3 separate regions of the Homo sapiens genome follow, and regions 2 and 3 are each linked to region 1. Evidence: fine-mapped QTL for protein levels in blood plasma. Region 1 holds a variant in brackets. A gene starts in each other region. All regions are shown on their forward strands.

What was found. PIP is the posterior inclusion probability: the model's chance that the variant is causal. The UK Biobank Pharma Proteomics Project read protein levels with antibody pairs (Olink). The fine-mapping took linkage between variants from a reference panel, not from the people measured, so its PIPs are less certain.
Region 2: IL27 starts here. The variant in region 1 is fine-mapped to the plasma level of the IL27 protein (UK Biobank, PIP 0.99).
Region 3: it holds the start of EBI3, and the variant in region 1 is fine-mapped to the plasma level of the EBI3 protein (UK Biobank, PIP 0.99).

The regions. Positions count from the first base shown.
Region 1 is chr2:110,848,686-110,856,926 of GRCh38, forward strand. The region is part of intron 10 of ACOXL (acyl-CoA oxidase like); the gene reads left to right. Among named protein-coding and RNA genes, the nearest start is that of ACOXL, 120 kb to the left of the region's middle. The variant G/T (reference allele first, on the strand shown) is at 4,554.
Region 2 is chr16:28,502,225-28,507,224 of GRCh38, forward strand. It overlaps IL27 (interleukin 27), which reads right to left and starts at 4,610. Exons shown (of 5, transcript NM_145659.3): 1 at 4,557-4,610; 2 at 1,654-1,826; 3 at 1,471-1,569. The coding sequence starts at 4,587.
Region 3 is chr19:4,226,813-4,231,997 of GRCh38, forward strand. It overlaps EBI3 (Epstein-Barr virus induced 3), which reads left to right and starts at 2,711. Exons shown (of 5, transcript NM_005755.3): 1 at 2,711-2,805; 2 at 4,379-4,511. The coding sequence starts at 2,739. RefSeq lists enhancers at 2,931-3,020, 3,984-4,485.

The DNA of each region.
Region 1 (8,241 bases):
CCTTGTGCTTTTGGTGCCTTCTGCTCTGACCACGTGACCATTTCCCAGTCAAACCTGCTCATGACATGTATGCTGCCACACCTACACAGTGGTCTCCGGGGAGCCTTCTGCCTGCTGACCAGTGACCAGAGGATCTTTCGCAAACACAGATCTGACCACGCCCCTCCCACTAAGAAGGCCCCTTGGGCTTCCCCGTGTAGACAGCAGAATCCTGACCTTTAGCACGGGATTCAGACCTCACTCCTCACGCTGCTGTCTCCTCACGCTGAGCTTCCTGCCACATCCACCCCTTGCTTTTGCTATTTCCCATGGAGGATTAACTTCCCTTGTCTCTCGCCGACCAGTGAACTCACCCTCCAACAGCCCCCCTTTATCGTCTCCTTTTCAGATCTATCAAGGAACCATGCTCCATGCTCTTTTCTGTTGTTGGGTCTCAGGGCAGCTTCTCAGGTCAGAGCCTAGCTCTATTTCTTCTCCTTCCTGTCTGCCTCAGGCAACAGGTGGGAAAGGCAGGCGGCATCCCTGTTCCCTCCACAAGTGCCCCTCTATGTCCTTACAGCCAAGGCCATTTAACAAAGCCCTACTGTGTCCACAGGTCTGGGAGGAACTGGTTAGTCTTTCTTGAATGATATCCCCCTGGAAAATGACCCCTCCCTTACTTTCAAAGACTAAGACATCCACATGAAATTGATCAGGAGATTCAACACAGCTCAAATTAAAATCCCAGTAAGATTTTGTGTAGAAATTGGCAAGATAATTCAAAAAATTTTATGGAAAGGCAAAAGACCTAGGCTGCGTGCCGTGGTTCACGCCTGTAATCCCAGCACTTTGGGAGGCTGAGGCAGGTGGATCACCTGAGGTCGGGAGTTCGAGACCAGCCTGGCCAACATGGTGAAACCTTGTCTCTACTAAAAGTACAAAAATTAGCCAGGCGTGGTGGCACGTGCTTGTAATCCCAGCTACTCAAGAGGCTGAGGCAGGAGAATTGCTTGAACCCGGGAGGTGGAGGTTGCAGTGAGCCGCGATTGCACTACTGCACTCCAGACTGGGTGACAGAGTGAGAAAAACAAACAAACAAACAAACAAACAAACAAAAAACAGAACTAGACCAGCCAAGCAATTTTGAAAAAGAACAGAGCTGGAAGACTTCCAGTACCTCATTTTCAGAATCGCTGTAAAGCTGCAGTAATCAAGAGCAGACTATAGGACATGTAGGCAAAAGGACAGACTTGTAGTCCAATGGGACATAGGAAGAAGTCAGGAGCAGACCCCACATGAATGATCAATGGATTTTCAACAAAGGCGCCAAAATGATTCAGTGGAGAAAGGATAATCTTTTAAATAAATGGAGCAATTGGACATCCATATAAAAATTCAAAAACCAAGAAAAACCCATACCACATACCTTGTAGCATGTACAAGCAACAAAGATGGATCATGAACCTAAATGTAAAGCCTAAAACCGTAAACCTTCTGGAAGAAAACATAGAAGAAAATCTTTGTGGTCTTGGCTTAGAGAAAACTTTCTTCAGACACAGAAAGTATGAACTGTCAAGGAAAAAGTTGGCAAAAATGGATTTTATCAAAATTAAAAACAGCTGCTCTTTGAAAAACACTGCAAAGAAATAAAAAGACAAGCCACACATGGGGACAAAATATTTGTAAAACACATATCTGATAAAGAAGTTGTATCCAGAGTATGTAGAACTCTTACAGCCCCTTCACAAGAAAATGAAACAACTCAATGTAATAAATGGGCAAAAAATACTCGAACTGATTATTCACCAAACAAGATGCATAGATGGCAAATAAGACCATGAAGGGATGCTCACCCTCATTAGTCATTAAGGAAATGCAAATTAAGGTAGAATGAGATACCATTACATATATGTTAGGATGGCTTAAAACTTCAATACCATCAAATTGACCCTCATCAAAACTTCCCAACACAAACACAAACAAAAAAACCACGCTGATAATATGAAGTGATGATGAGGATGTGGAGAAACTGCAACTCTGATACATTGCTGGTGGAAGGCGAAATGGTACGGCCACTTTGGAAAAACACTTTGGAAGTTTCTTATGATGTTAAACATACCTTTACCATAGACCCAGAGATTACACTCCCGGATACTTAAAGGAGAGAAATGAAAACGTTAGTGCACACCAAGACGTGTATGCATGGCTTCTCCATTCATAATAGCCTCAAACTGAAGACAATTCCAAATGTCCTTCCATTGGGAAGTGGGTAAACAGACTGTGTCACTTCCATACAGTGAGATACTACTCAGCAATAAAAAGACATTCTGCTGAGTGGAAAAAGCCAGACTCAAAAGTGCCCTTACTGTGTGATTCTTTTTGCATGACATTCTGGAAAAGAGCAAACTATAGGGAAGAAAGCAGACCCGTACTCACCAGGTGGGTGGAGGAGTTGACTAGAAAGCAAAGTGAGGGATTTTTGGGGGTTGACGGACAGATTCTAAATCTTGATTGTGGTGGTGACACGACTGTATATATTTTCCAAAATTCATAGTACTGTGACACCTAAATCAGGTGAATTTTATTGTAATTAAATTATGCTCAGTGAACTTGAATTAAAGAGAGTTAAGATAGGGGAGTCTCTGGATCACTTTTTTGAGGTGAGAACACTGTGTCTGAGGCCGTGTTGACACTTTTTCCAAGTGCTTCTGGGTATGGTTTGAGGGGGTTCTTTATGTGGAATTACTTGTTTTACGTGCCCAGGGTGAGGCCTTTGAGTTCACATTGAGCCACATTGTCATTTTCAATGAAGGCAGGTTGCAAGCTGTGTGACTGCACTCAGTTTAGCCCATTCCTCTTTCTAAGGCGTTCCACGACAACACAGGTGCAGTCAGGTCTTCCATCAGCTCTGGACGCCCTAGACTGTGTGGTGCTTCAGTGAGGCCCTCGTGGTGGGGTGGTGCAGCCCGAGGCACCACCTTGTTTTTCACTGCAAGGTGGCTGCAGAGCAGAACCAGTGCTCTGGTCTGTGGTCCTGAGAGCCCTCAGGGCGCTGGGATGACATCCCTCCGTGAAATACAGGTGCCTGAGGCCATGTTCCTGAAGGCATTGCTCATCTCAACCACCTGGAAAACTCTCTGGTCCGCGGGCCTCTCCCAGAGATCCGGGAAATGGGGGGCAGCTGTTTCCAGACCTCACCAGTGAGAAAGGCGCTCCATGTTCTGTCCTGGCCGCAGAGGTGAACATAGCCGGGGTCACTCCAGCTCCCACTGGGTTGAATGTCGCTGAGTGCAGGGCAGAGAGCAGGACGGAGAGAGAATGAGCTTGGAGGAAGCCCCCAGCATATTTCCTGGATTACTGAGAGGAGCTGCCCTTCTGCCAGGGCCAGGGGAGGCCAGCTCTGTCAGTGGGAGACCCCTATGGACGACTGTCCAGGCTGGTGTTTGTGGCAGGTCTGCTGGGTGTGGGGAGGCACAGGGTTAACTACTGCAGGGCTAGAGCCCATTGCTGACTTCTGTATATTCCCTTGACTGGCACCGTGTCGCCCTGGCCTGGTGGATCGCTTGACAGTAAGCCTGAGGCTGGTGCCTACCCATTTCATGGCGTGGTGGAGGGGGGCTACCAAGGTCTTGCTCGTATTTCTGTTGAGAGGGACACCGGGGAGCTCTCTGGTCAGGCTGCGCGTGGGGGCCCTGGCTCCCTGGCTCATATTCTGTGGCCTGACCTGCAAGCCCAGCTTCAGGCTCTCGACTTCCTCCTGAAGGGCGTTTCTCAAGTTTGAATGAACGGCTTAAATTGGCAAGACGTAATCCAGGGCTCTGTTAAACTAGCCACAGAGAGTTCTAAATCTGCCTCCCTCAGTCACCAAGATGCTGCATTTATAGGCAATTTTTGCTGTATGAATCACATTTTGGCCTCTTATGTGGCTCAAACTACTTACAAATCAAGAACATTCTATAGCCTCTACATCACATGGGGGACTGGGCCTGTAGGGGTGCTGGGACATCCCCTGGAGGGGCAGCACAAACCCTGTTCGCTGTGGCCAATGCAGAAGGAGTTGTGATGAGGCAGCTTTTTTTTCTTTTTCCTGAGGTGGTTTGTCACTCAGATTCTGCTTCCTGTTGAGGTTGGTAGAGCCTCAAGTGCCATGCAGAGAAGTCCACCTATAAACTGCCATTCCCTGGTCTTTCATGAGGCAGACTTGACTGCTCGTCCAAGTGCTCTATTCTGTTGTATAAGGCAATCTCCACCCTCATTAGAGCCCATGGTGGGTGAAGATGGTATGTGGGTGCTTGGAGCGGAAGGAGAGTCACATTTATACACTCACATGTCAGCAGCCGTGGGTCCATACAATGTTCCTCCTCCAGAGAACAAGCTTCTTTGTCTGCATCCCCTCCACTGCCAGCATGTGCTGGGTCCAGAGTGCCGGGCCTCGGGCGGGGTGGTCCATCTTGGTGGCTGTTTACTTAATCTCCTCCTCCTATACCTGTGGTTCTAAACTATGGTGATTTTGCCTCCAGAGACATTCAGTGACATTTTTGGTTGTCCAAACTTGGGGAGGTTACTACTGACTG[G/T]CAGCTACGGTGGAGAGGCCAGGGATGCTGTTAACCATCCCAAAATGCTTGGTTCGGCTGCTCACAACAAAGAATTATCTGGCCCAAAATGGGAAAAGTGCCTGGGTAGAGAAACTGCCCTCGACTGAGAGCTCCTGACGGTAAGCACAGTGTTGATTCCTCTTTCCATCTTCAGAGCCTGGCAGGTATCATGTGCTCAGTTGGCATAGGCTGAATCAAATCTGTGATTAAAAGGCTCACATGCATGTTGGTTTTTGTGTTGATAAAATACTTTCAATATTCCGTGATAATTTTTGTTCTATTTGTTTGTTTGTTTGTCTAAGCATAGAAATTAAATCAGCTTTCAATTAGTCATACTAATGGGTGGGAGAGAAGAGTAGTCCCTCCAAAACGGAAGATCCCCCAGAATCCACTTTTACGGTTGTCTGTGCAATGATACAGAGACACAAATGCACAGTAGGACTCACTGTTGCCCTCTAGAGCCAGCCCGAGGCCCTTTCTTGTTTGGTTTACAGGCATGGGGGAAGGCCCTGCCTTGTTGATAATCTACAAAGTGCAACAGATAATTGGAAAGGAACTAATTATTTTACCTTGACTGTACTATTCCCCATCTTCCTCTCTCCTCTCCTTTTTTTTAATCTTAAAAGGAAAACGAAGTGAAATCTAGGACACTTGTTTTTTTTTTTTTTTTAATTTCAATTGAATATAGATTAATTTGTTCATTCAACAGATACTTACTGAGCTTCTTCCATGGACTAAATGAGGGTAAAAGCACACCATGTCTGCCTTTGGTGACCCTGGTGGGAGTACTATCACAACCTAAGGGTGATAAAGGAAGCACTCGATGCTCCAAGGCATGTGTGTGCATGTCTGTGTGCGTGTGCATGTGTGTGTGTGTCTGTTTGCATGTGTGGGGAGGGTGTGCCCTGCCCTTCAGGCTGTGCAGCATGGGCTGGCAGCAACTTCTGAGGGGAAGAAGAGAGGGGGAAGAAGAGATTTGCAGGCACACAGTGGGTAGAGGATATGATTAGCATTGTTGGTACAATTTCCAGGCATCTTCTGCCTGTACCTCTTTGTGATCGTCCAGGCAGAACCTACCACATCTCCATGAAGGAGGCAGGATGTGGAGGTTCCACACCAGGTGGACTTGGGGATTCAAACTCAGGCCTCTGACTCCCAGCAGAAGACTTTTCCCCAAAGTGTGTCACCAACACCACCCAGGGTGCTGGGATGGTTCCCTAGGGCTCAGAGCCTTGATTCAGCCCCAGCCCCCAAGGAGGGTGTTTGTTTGCTCTCCACCAGCAGGGGGATAAAGTGCTGTTTGGAGAGTGTCAGGGCTGGAAGGGCAGGCCATGCTCATGGAAAATTTCCCTATTTAAGTAATGACTGAGTAGGTTTATGGAAGAGCATTAAGGAGACTTCAGGTGCAGGGATGATGTGGCAGAGGCCATTGAGGGCCACCACCTGGCAGAGATCTGGAAAGCTCTTGCTTAACCCAAGGGAGAGGTGGCCCTTCTCAAGCAGAGGGACCAGTTTCTATTTTCTCCCTTGAAAACAAGAAGGAGACAGTGGCCCCTGTCCTCTGGCATGGGGTCAAGGATGCAGAGATTACTGCTCTGCTCAGCCTAGCACCCCACCTCCACCTTCCCTGGAATCTGTCCCACCTGATGGCCAGCAGATGGCCCTGGGGAGGAAGCTACCAACTCTTGCTTTAAGAAACTGTCCCAGTTGAGAGAATTGACCTACCCCATGGGACTTGTCTTGTTTGAAAGGAAACCTTTGAGAGTCTTCTTTTAAATCACATGTCTTCTGTGATGAGTGTAGGTAGGAAAAAAGGAAACATTAGGTGTTGGAGGCAAAACTGCTCATATGGAGGAAAATCGTTTCATCTTTTATACTTCTTACATCTTTTTTGTATACCTGAAAGCAAGTGTAGAAGAAAAAAACTGATTCTGCCAGTTGGCAACAGTTATTCCTGACCTTAAAACTAGTCTTGATGTGGAGGAGACATCAGTGTGCAATGCTATAGATGACATATTGCTTAAACGCTTCCTCATTTAACTGTCATAGCCCCTAAAATGGGTGTTACTAATTTTGTTTTAGAGATAAGGGCACTAATGCTCAGAGAGGTTGAGGAGTTTGTCCGAGGCCACATAGCCATTCAATAAAGACTGTGTTCTTTCTAGTGTATTAGGAATCTCTGCTGACCTGGGCAGAGCTGTGAATATGAGATACGATTTGAGAAAATGCACCAAACAAATCAAAAAGCAACTTTACAGGAGAAGATACAAGGATGTACCTGATTGCTTGTCAAAGAAATAAAAATATATGATATGTACTGTGAAATGCAGTAATTTCCCTTTACCCAATGCTTCACTTTCTGTGGTTTCAGTTACCTGTGGTCAATTTTGTTCTGAAAATATTAAATGGAAAATTTCAGAAACAATTTATTAGTTTTAAATTGTGTGCCATCCTGAGTAATGTTGTGTCCGGAGTTGGTTTCTGCTGGTGGGTTTGTGGTCTCTCTGACTTCAAGAATGAAGCCGCGGACCTTCGCAGTGAGTGTTACAGCTCTTAAAGATGGCTTGGACCCAAAGAGTGAGCAGTAGCAAGGTTTATTGTGAAGAGCAAAAGGACAAAGTTTCCACAGGGTGGAAGGGGACCCCAGCGGGTTGCCGCTGCTGGCTGGGGTGGCCAGCTTTTATTCCCTTATTTGACCTCTCTGATGTTCTGTTTCTGTCCTATCAGAATGCCCTTTTTTCAATCCTCCCTGTGATTGGCTACTTTTAGGATTCTGCTGATTGGTGCATTTTACAGAGCGTTGATTGGCGCATTTTACAAAGCACTGATTGGTGCATTTTACAATCCTCTTGCTAGCTACAGAGCGCTGATTGGTGCATTTTACAATCCGAGCTACAGAATGCTAATTGGTGCATTTTACAATCCTCTCCTAAGACAGAAAAGTTCTCCAAGTCCCCACTCGACCCAGGAAATCCAGCTGGCTTCACCTCTCAATATGATGAAATCTGAAGCCATCCTGCTCCATCCCATCCTGAATGGAATCCTCCCCTTGTCCAGGTTACCCACCCGTTAGTCACTTAGTAGCTGTCTCAGTGATCAGATGGCTTGTCATGGTGTCACAGTGCTTGTGTTTAAGTCATCTTTATTTGACTTCATATGTCCCCAAAACACAAGAGTCGTGATGCTGGCAATTGGGATATGCCAAAGAGAAGCCATAAAGTGTTTCCTTTAGGTAAAAAAGTGAAAGTTCTCGACTTCATAAGAAAAGAAAAGCAATCATATGCTGCGGTTGCTAAGATCTACAGAAAGAAGGAGTCTTCTACCTGTGAAATTGTGAAGAAGGAAAAAGAAATTTGTGCTAGTTTTGCTGTCACACCTCAAATTGTAAAAGGTACAGCCACAGGGGTGATAAGCACTTAATTAAGATGGAAATTAAATTTGTGGGTGGAAGACATGGACAGGAATATGTCTGGTTGGCAGTGGGGTTCAGTACTCTCCCTGGTTTTAAACATTTAGTGGAGTTTTGGAATGTATCCCCGGTACAGAAGGGGGACCTACTGTAAAAGCCAGAAGACCCTGTGTGCAAAGAGAATATACAATGTAAATCCCAACTCTTGTATGGGATTCCAAGGACATTGATTTTTCTAAGACTCAGATGATGCTGTTA
Region 2 (5,000 bases), not on the chromosome of region 1:
TCCACGCTCCAGCCTCCAGTCCATCCCTGTAGCTCTTCCCCCACCTCAGCCCAGCTGTGTCCCCATTCCTTCCATCTCCACTGTCTGGGACATTTGTCCCATCTCCTTTTCCAGCCTCCCTTTCACTCCTATGCCAATGATCTTCTCTAACCCACCCCCTCTCAGTCCCTGAAGCACTCTCCATCCACAGCCCTGTTCCCTTCCCTCCTCCACCATCCCATCATACCTCCTGCCCATGTGTTTCCATCCCATCTTCAGCCTCATTCCCATTCCTAACCCCAACTCCATCCTTCCTCCATGTGCCCAGACTCACTCTTTCCATCTTTCCATCCCATCTCCAACCTCATTCCTAACCCTATTCCATTCCCTTCCCCACCAGCAATCCCCATCCCTTCTCCATCCCATGCTTAACGTTCACCCTCATCATCACCTTCTCATCTCTAACTATCCGCATTCTCACCCCCAGTGCCACCTCCACCCACCCTCCATGCTGCTGTGATCTGTCTCCAGCCTCATTCCAGTCCCATGCCTGCCGCGTTCCATGCCTAGCTCCACTCTTACCTCTTCCCAACCCCACTTCCTTATTCCAGCTTCATCTTTATTGTTGGTTTGTTTTGAGATGGAGTCTCGCTCTGTTGCCCAGGCTGGAGTGCAGTGGCGCGATCTCATCTCACTGCAACCTCCACCTCCTGGGTTCAAGTAATTCTCCTGCCTCAGCCTCCCGAGTAGCTGGGATTACAGGCGCACAGCACCATACCCGGCTAATTTGGTATTTTTAGTAGAGGTGGGGTTTCTTCATGTTGGTCAGGCTGGTCTCGAACTCCTGACCTCAGGTGATCCACCCACATCAGCCTCCCACAGTGCTGGGATTACAGTCGTGAGCCACTGCGCTCAGCTAATTTTTGTATTTTTTAGTAGAGATGGGGTTTCGCCATGTTGGCCAGGCTGGTCTTGAACTCTTGACCTCAGGTGATCCGTGCTCCTCAGCCTCCCAACGTGCTGGGATTACAGGCATGAGCCACCACGCCTGGCAGTTTATTTATTTTTCTGAGACAGGGTTTCCCTCTGTTCTCCATCCTGGAGTCCAGGATCATAACTCACTGCAGCCTCCAACTCCTGAGCTCAAGCAATCCTCCCATGTCAGCCTCCTGAGTAGCTGGGACCAAAGGTGTACACCACCATGCCTGGCTAACTCTTAAATTTTTTTTTGTAGAGACAAAGTTTCACTATGTTGCCCAGACTGGTCTTGAACTCCTGGCCTCAAGCAGTCCTTCCACCTGGGCCTCCCAAAGTGCTGGGTTTATAGGTGTAAGTCACCATGCCTGTCTTTCATCTCTATGTCCAATGACATATTCAGCCTTATCCAGGTTCTATCCCCAATGCATCTCCAGCTCAATCTCCAGCCTCATCTTGCACCCTGGCCCCAGCCTATCACAAGCTTCCCGCCCCACTCCACCAGCCCTCACTCACAGAGAGGCGGCGCCAGGCCTGGAAGGTCAGGGAAACATCAGGGAGCTGCTCTCCCAGGGGCAGGAGGTACAGGTTCACTCCTGGCAGGTGAGATTCCGCCTGGGGGGCAAGGTCTGTTAGTGGGGGCCAGAAGGGATTGGGGGTCTGCCCATCTCCAGCGCCAGCTGCATTAGGGGGACTTACAAAGCGGTGGGCCTGGCCCCGAACCTCGGAGAGCAGCTTCCTGGCGAGATGCAGGCTGACTGTGAACTCCCTCCGCAGCTCCTGCAGGCTCAGCTGGGGCCTCCCTGGGGGCCTTGGGAATCCCCAGACACCAGCTTGAACCAGGAGCAAGGGAAGCAGCAACAGGCTGAGCCCTGGAGAGATGGGAAGAGGGTGGCAAGACAGGGAGAGAGCTTGAGAAGGAAGGGAACATGCCTTTTCTGAGCCTGTGCTAGCTGTGAGCACGGTGCAGGCACTTTGACCAGCATCATTCCTCTGCCTCCTCAAAACCACAATGGAGGCTGGGTGCGGTGACTCACACCTGTAATCCCAACAATTTAGGAGACCGAGGCGGGCGGATCACCTGAGGCCAGGAGTTCAAGACCAGCCTGGCCAACATGGCGAAACCCTGTCTCTACTAAAAATACAAAAATTAGTTGGGCGTGGTGGTGCATGCCTGTAATCCCAGCTACTCAGGAGGTTGAGGCAGGAGAATCGCTTGAACCTGGGAGGCAGAGGCTGCAGTGAGCTAACACCACTGTGCTCCAGCCTGGGCGACAGAGCCAGACTCTGTCTCAAAAAAACAAAACAAAACAAAACAAAACAAAACCCCACGATGCAGCCAGCACGGCCCCCATATGGCATCTCCGCATGGTGTGCCCACTTTTGCAAAAAGACCAGAAGCCTGATCCTTTTTTTTTTTTTTTGAAACAGAGTTCTGTTCTATCACCCAGCCTGGAGTGTAGTGGTGTGATCACAGCTCACTGTAGCCTTGAACTCCTAGGCTCAAGTGATCCTCTCGCCTCAGCCTCCCAAGTAGCTGGGATCACAGGGACACACCACTGTGCCTAACTGTTTCTATTTTTTTGTAGAGACAGGGTCTCACTATGTTGCCCAGGCTGGTCTTGAACTCCTGGCCTCAAGAGATCTTCCCGCCTCAGCCTCCCAAATTGCTGGGATCACAGGCATGAGCCACTGTGCCGGGACAGAGACTGGATTTTGACCCCCATAAACTCCCTTGGCCAAATGCCTTTTTCAGTGAGCAACCTGCACAACCACGTGTGGCAGCCTCAGTGCTATTGTTCTCCCCAATTTGCAGGTGAGGCTCAGTGAGGTTGACTTGCCCAAGGTCAAATAGCCAGAAGGTGGGAAGCCAGGACTGGATTCCAGGTTTTTCCAAATGCAGAGCCCATGGGTTTTCCCCAGAGAATGCAGAGGGAGGCAGCCATCTGCCCCAGGAGTGGGCACACCATGTTCTGGCAAGGATTCTTTGGGCTCAGCCAAGCGGCTCTGATGGCTTGAACTGGCCATGAGGTCCCCAGGGATGGGCTGGCAATGCCAGAGGCTCTATTCCAGGGAGTCAAAAGGACAGGTTTGTCCAGTTTCCACCACGGCAGGTGGATCCTAGCAGGGTAACCTGCCTGGGGCGAATCCACAGTATGGGAGCTTTTTTTTTTTTAAGACAGATTCTCACTCTGTCACCCAGGCTGCAGTGCAGTGGCGCGATCTCGACTCACTGCAACCTTCACCTCCCAGGTTAAAGCAATTCTCCTGCCTCAGCCTCCTGAGTAGCCACCACGCCTGGCTAATTTTTATTATATTTAGTAGAGAGGGGTTTTGCCGTGTTGGCCAGGCTGGTCTCCAACTCCTGACCTCAGGTGATCCGCCTGCCTTGGCCTCCCAAAGTGCTGGGATTACAGACATCAGCCACTGCGCCCAGCCCAGAATGGCTGAATTCCGAGTGTGCTTCCTGACCTGTGTTTTCCTGGAAAGAGGGGCAGCGGATGGGCGCTCTAGGAAGAGGGCAGCATTCATCAATTTCCCCCTCAGGGAGAGGAAATCTAGCAAGCACAAGAGTTACACAATTCTCCTCGAAACACAAACCAAAACTGGCCCGAAGTCCATCCTGCTCTCCCTTCTCTCCCTGCCTCTTCCCTGTCCTCTCTCAATCTCTAACCCCTGGGCTCTGCTCTTCGAAATGTCCCCTGATAAAGGTGAAGGGGAGCTTCTAGGGACATCTACCTCCCTCGTGGGCTTGCAGATGTGGTGGGCGATGCCTAACGTAAGATCTCTGGCATTCAGACTCCCTGGTTTTGGGGCCACTCGGACCCTCTGACATCCTGGAGACTTAAGGCAGAGTGGGGTTCTTCCTAGCTCAATGTTGGGGACAGGGTGGGTGCCCCCAGGCCCTGGTGGATCAAGCCCAACCGTAAGTGAGCTGTGCCATCTCCAACCTGACCTCTGGAGACCCCAGACCCCCTCCTTACCCTCTGCAGCTGATCCTGGGTCATTGGCTCTGGCCTTTGAAGGCTCTGTCTCCATCCTCCAGCCTTTGGTCCCTACCTGCCCTACGTGGCATGTTACCTTCTCCACTGCCTACTGCTCTGGTTCTAGCCCCTGAGTTCTGCAGCCACCAGCCGCAGATTGGACCTCTTTCCAACATCAAACTAAAGACCTTTGACCCAGTGAGGCTGCTGACATCTTGGTCCCAGTGCTCCACTTGTGCCAGCACCTCGTTCTGCTCTTCCTCCAGCCGGCCCCATTCTCAGTCTTAGCCAAGCTGTTTGGCTTCTGCTTATTCACTCCAAACTCTTCATTTATCTGCCTAGACCTGGTCCTTGTCAAATTGCTGGTCCAACCCTCCCCATTCCCACTAGCCAAGGCCTCCTTCTCATCCTCTGCCCAGCCCTGGGTCAGACCACCACCCCACTGCCCCAGGCCCCCACCCAGTCATGCCAGCCTCCCTTCCCATGCAGCAGCCAGCCGAATCCTCAGTCTTGGCCAAGTTGCTGCTCTCAGCTCTCGACCCCCCATCTGCACCAGCCAAGCTCGTCCATTCTCTGCCCAAACTCAACCAAGCCCCCCACCCCTGGCTTCAAACTCACGCCAGCCAAGGTCGCCTGCCGTCTGGCCCATGGCGGGGCCCAGCCTCTTTGGTCAGCCATCTCCTGGGTAGGGGGGGTCTTATACTGGGGGCTGTGCCCGGTTTCACTTTCCGTCCTGCTTGTACTTTCAGCTTTGTGTTCACTCATTCTTCCCTCTCGCCACCCCTTGCTAAAATGGGGAAATGTAATTTCCCTTCCCGGAGGGGGTGGGAGGTATGATGGGGGGTGACGGGAAGCTGGGGTTTCGGGACATCCAAGCTCCAGACTCACTGCTAAGCTCCCACGTCCAGCCCTGTCCTCAATGTCCCATGCTTGGGTGAGCCATCCAGCCCTATTCACTGGTTGATCCCAGAGTCCCAAACCCCCTCCTGATTCTCGGCTCTGCCACCATCATCCTAGGGTCTACTGTCCTTCCAAAGATGGATAGCCAGGTAAGGGGATTGC
Region 3 (5,185 bases), not on the chromosome of region 1:
GTTCACACCATTCTCCTGCCTCAGCCTCCTGAGTAGCTGGGACTACAGGCGCCTGCCACCACGCCCGGCTAATTTTTTTGCATTTTTAGTGGAGACGGGGTTTCACCATGTCAGCCAGGATGGTCTTGATCTCCTGACCTTGTGATCCGCCCGCCTCGGCCTCCCAGAGTGCTGGGATTACAGGTGTGAGCCCCCACGCTCAGCCTTTTTTTTTTTTTTTTTTTTTGACACAGAGTCTCACTCTATCTCCCAGGCTGGAGTGCAGTGGCGTGACCTCGGCTCACTGCAACCTCCTCTCACTGCAACCTCCGCCTCCCAGGTTTAAGCGATTCTCCCACCTCAGCGTCCCAAGTAGCTGGGATTACAGGTGCGCACCACAACGCCCAGCTAATTCTTGTATTTTTAGTAGAGACGGGGTTTCACCATATTGGCCAGGCTGGTCTCGAACTTCTGACCTTGTGACCCGCCCGCCTCAGCCTCCCAAAGTGCTGGGATTAGAGGCGTGAGCCACCACACCCGGCCCTCTGTCGTCTTCTCTTATCTCTCTGTCTCTCTTTCTGTGTCTGTCATCTCCCCGTATCTCTATTTCTGTCTTCCTGTCTTCTTTCTGTCTCTCTTTTGTCTCTCTTTCTCCATCTCTGTCATTGCCCCATCAGTCTTTTTGTTGTTGTTGTTGTTCTTTTTGAGATGGAGTCTCACTCTGTCACCCAGGCTGGAGTGCAGTGGTGTAATCTTGGTTCACTGCAACCTCTGCCTCCCAGGTTTAAGTGATTCTCCTTCCTCAGCCTCCAGAGTAGCTGGGATTACAGGTGCCTGCCACCACGCCCAGCTAATTTTTGTATTTTTAGTAGAGACAGGGTTTCACCATTTTGGTCAGGCTGGTCTCGAACTCCCAACCTCAGGTGATCCATCTGCCTTGGCCTCCCAAGGTGCTGGGATTACAGCCGTGAGCCACCGTGCCCCACCATCTCTCTATCTCTGTCTATCCTACTCTCTCATCTCTGTCTCTCTGTCTCTGTCTCTCATCTTCCCATCTGTGTCTCTCTTTCTCTGTCTTCCTCCCTTATCTCTGTCTCTGTGTCTCTCTCATTTCCCTATCTCTGTCTTCCTCTCTTATCTCTGTCCCTCTGTCTCTCTTCCTCTGTCTGTCTGCTCTCTGTGTTTCTCTTTCTGTTTCCATCATCTCCCTGTCTCTCTCTGTCTCTGTGTCCTCCTCCTCTCATCTCTGTCTCTGTCTCTCTCATTCCCCTGTCTCTCTCTGTCTCTATCATCTCCCTATCTATCTCTGTGTCCTCCTCCTCTCATCTCTGTCTCTCTCTGTGTTTCTGTCTCTGTCATCCCCCTTTCTCTGTCTCTGTCATCTCCCTGTCTCTCTATCTCTGTGTCCTCCTCCTCTCGTCTCTGTCTCTCTGCCTCTCTCATCTGTATCTCTCTCTGTCTCTGTCATCTCCCTGTCTCTGTCTCTCTCTATCTCTGTGTCCTCCTCTCATTTGTCTCTCTGCCTCTCTCATCTGTATCTCTGTCACTTTCTCTGTCATCTCCCTGTCTCTCTATCCCTCTATCTCTGTGTCCTCCTCTCATCTGTCTCTCTGCCTCTCTCATCTGTAGCTCTCTCTGTCTCTGTCATCTCCCTGTCTCTCTATCCCTCTATCTCTGTGTCCTCCTCTCATCTGTCTCTCTGACTCTCTCATCTTTGTCTCTGTCTCTGTCTCTGTCATCTCCCTGTCTATCTCCGTGTCCTCCTCCTCTCATCTCTGCCTTTCTCATCTCTGTGTCTCTCTCTGTGTTTCTGTCTCTGTCATGCCCCTTTCTCTGTCTGTCATCTCCCTGTCTCTATCTATCTCTGTGTCCTCCTCCTCTCATCTCTGTCTCTCTCATCTGTATCTCTCTCTGTCTCTGTCGTCTCCCTGTCTCTCTATCTCTTTGTCCTCTTCCTCTTGTCTTTCTCTCTGCCTCTCTCATCTGTGTCTCTCTCTGTCTCTGTCTCTGTCATCTCCCTGTCTCTGTCTCTCTCTCTCTGTGTCCTCCTCCTCTCGTCTCTTTCTCTCTGCCTCTTTCATCTGTGTCTCTGTGTCTCTCTGTCATCTCCCTGTCTATCTCTGTGTCCTCCTCCTCTCGTCTCTGTCTCTCTGCCTCTTTCATCTGTGTCTCTCTGTCTCTGTCTCTGTCATCTCCCTGTCTCTGTATCCCTCTATCTCTGTGTCCTCCTCTTCTTGTCTCTGTCTCTCTGCCTCTCTCATCTGTGTCTCTCTCTGTGTCTCTGTCTCTGTCATCTCCCTGTCTCTCTGTGTCTTCCTTCTGTCTTCTCTGTCTCTCTGCCTCTCTCCCCCATCTCTGCCTCTGTCTCCCTCCATGTCCCTGAGCCCCTGCCTGCCTGCCTGGGGTTTCCCCCGCTTCAGGGCAGCGGAAGGAAGGCCAGCAGGACATGCTGTGCTGGGAAAAGCCAGCAGGTCTCCACTTCTCCCTTTCACAGCCTCCTCCCCCGCCCCCACCCTCGGGGCCTTCCGAGCAGGGGTGGCCTGTGCTCCCCAGGGGGCTGGGGCTCCTCCACACCCTAATTCATCTCCCTAGCGGCCCCACGAGCCCCACCAGTGAGTCAGACCTGAAGGAAGTCGGGGAGGGGGCGGGCCTTGACCCTGGGCTGGGCTTTCCCCTGGGCAGGTCCCAAGTCCTCACCTCCCCTCTCAAGTCTCCCACGACGTTCCCACCCACTCCTGAGAGCAGAGCTGGCCGCAGCCATGACCCCGCAGCTTCTCCTGGCCCTTGTCCTCTGGGCCAGCTGCCCGCCCTGCAGTGGAAGGAAAGGTATGTGGGGCCCCTGGGGGACTGGGGGGCCCAGGCAGACGGACATGACACGAGGACTGGCCTCGGATCATGTCTGGGGTGGGAAATCACATCCTCCCGTGCCCAATGGTGGGATGGGGTTACCCTCCCATTGTACAGATGGAGGAACTGAGGCACAGAGAGGCAGAGTGCCACATTGGGGGTGGAAGGATGTCACCTTGTGGGTGATAGGGACTGGCAGTCACAGCTCAGAGGTATCCATAGAGCTACACAGACATAGCTACACAGACATGCGAATTTGAGTCACACTCATTCCTTTGGTTTCTTTTTGGTTTTGTTTTTTGAGACAGAGTCTCACTCTGTCGCCCAGGCTGGAGTACAGTGGCACCATCTCAGCTCACTGAAACCTCCATCTCCTGGGTTCAAGCGAGATTCTCCTCCCTCAGCCTCCCGAGTAGTTGGGATTACAGGTGCCCGCCACCATGCCCGGCTACTTTTTATATTTTTAGTAGAGATAGGGTTTTACCATGTTGGCCAGGGTGGTCTTGAACTCCTGACCTCAGGTGATCCACCCACCTCGGGCTCCCAAAGTGCTGGGATGACAGATGTGAGCCACCGCGCCCGGCCGACATTCATTCATTTTGCACTAGAGAACATCTCCATGTCCTTGAAGACAAAATGGTTACAGCAGGGCATGGTGGCTCATGCCTGTAATTCCAGCACTTTGGGAGGCCAGGGCGTGAGGATCGTGAGGCCAGGAATTCGAGACCAGCCTGGGCAACATAGTGAAACCGGACCCCACCAATCTGTACAAAAAATTAAAAAATTAGCTAGATGTGGTGGCACGTGCCTGTAGTCCCAGCTACTTGGGAGGCTGAGGTGGGAGGATAATTTGAGCCCAGGAATTGGAGGCTGCAGTGAGCTATGATTGTGCCACTGCATTCCAGCCTAGGTGACAGAGTGGGATACCTTGTCTCAAAATAATAATAATAATAATAATTTATAGGCTGGGTTTGGTGGCTCACGCCTGTAATTCCAGCACTTTGGGAGGCCAAGGCAGGTGGATCACCTGAGGTCAGGAGTTTGAGACCAGCCTGGCCAACATGGTGAAACTCCCTCTCTACTAAAAATACAAAAATTAGCCAAGCGTGGCAGTACATGCCTGTAATCCCAGCTACTCGGGAGGCTAAGAATCGCTTGAACCCGGGAGGCGGGGGTGGCAGTGAGCCGAGATCTCGCCACTGCACTCCAGCCTAGGCGACAGAGGGAGACTCCCTCTTTAAAAAAAAAAAACAATTACAAAAGAGAGAACACGGTAAAATCTCTCTCTCTTACCCGAGTTCCTCTCTGTAGATGCTTAAACCTCAGCTTCCCTATCTGGAAAATGGGCTAGTAGTCCTCACCTAGATGGATTGCAGTGGGGATAAAAGATGACAGATGACTTTTGTCCATGTACCTATTTATTCCGAAAGCCTTTATTAGGCACCTACCATGTACCTGGTGCTGGCTGGCAACGTGGCAGGAGCCCAGCGCACGGGAGGGCTATGACAATCTGGGGGTAAACCAGAAGCTCACTCTTTCTGTCTTCCTCCAGGGCCCCCAGCAGCTCTGACACTGCCCCGGGTGCAATGCCGAGCCTCTCGGTACCCGATCGCCGTGGATTGCTCCTGGACCCTGCCGCCTGCTCCAAACTCCACCAGCCCCGTGTCCTTCATTGCCACGTACAGGTCGGAGAGCCTGGAAGGGGGCCTCAGGGACACTGGACTTCCTGGAGAGCCCAGAACTCTGGCCCTGAGAGCCCTGGGGTCAGGAAAACTGGAGACCCCGACATCCTGAACCCCAGGCCTATGGAATTCTAGGGCGGCCCCGTCCAATAGAAATATACTTTCTGGGCCAGGCACAGTGGTGCATGCCTGTAATCCCAGCGCTTTGGGAGGCCGAGGTGGGCAGATTGCTTGAGGTCAGGAGTTTGAGACCAGCTTGGGCAACGTAGTGAGACACTGTCTCTACGAAAAATTTTAAAAATTGGTCAGGTGCAGTGGCTCATGCCTGTAATCCCAGCTACTCCGGAGGCTGAGGCAGGAGAATAGCTTGAACCCAGGAGGCGGAGGTTGCAGTGAGCCAAGATGGCACCATTGCACTCCAGCCTGGGCAACAGAGCAAGACTCCATCTCAAAAAAAAAAAAAAAAAACTACTTCCTGGGTTGGGCACAGTGGCACATGCCTGTAATCCCAGTACTTTGGGAGGCTGATGTGGGAGGATCACTTGAGGTCAGGAGTTTGAGTCCAGCTTGGGCAAAATAGTGAGACCCTGTCTCTAAAAACAATTTTTAAAATTAGCTGGGCATGGCCAGGCGCGGTGGCTCACGCCTGTAATCCCAGCACTTTGGGAGGCCGAGGT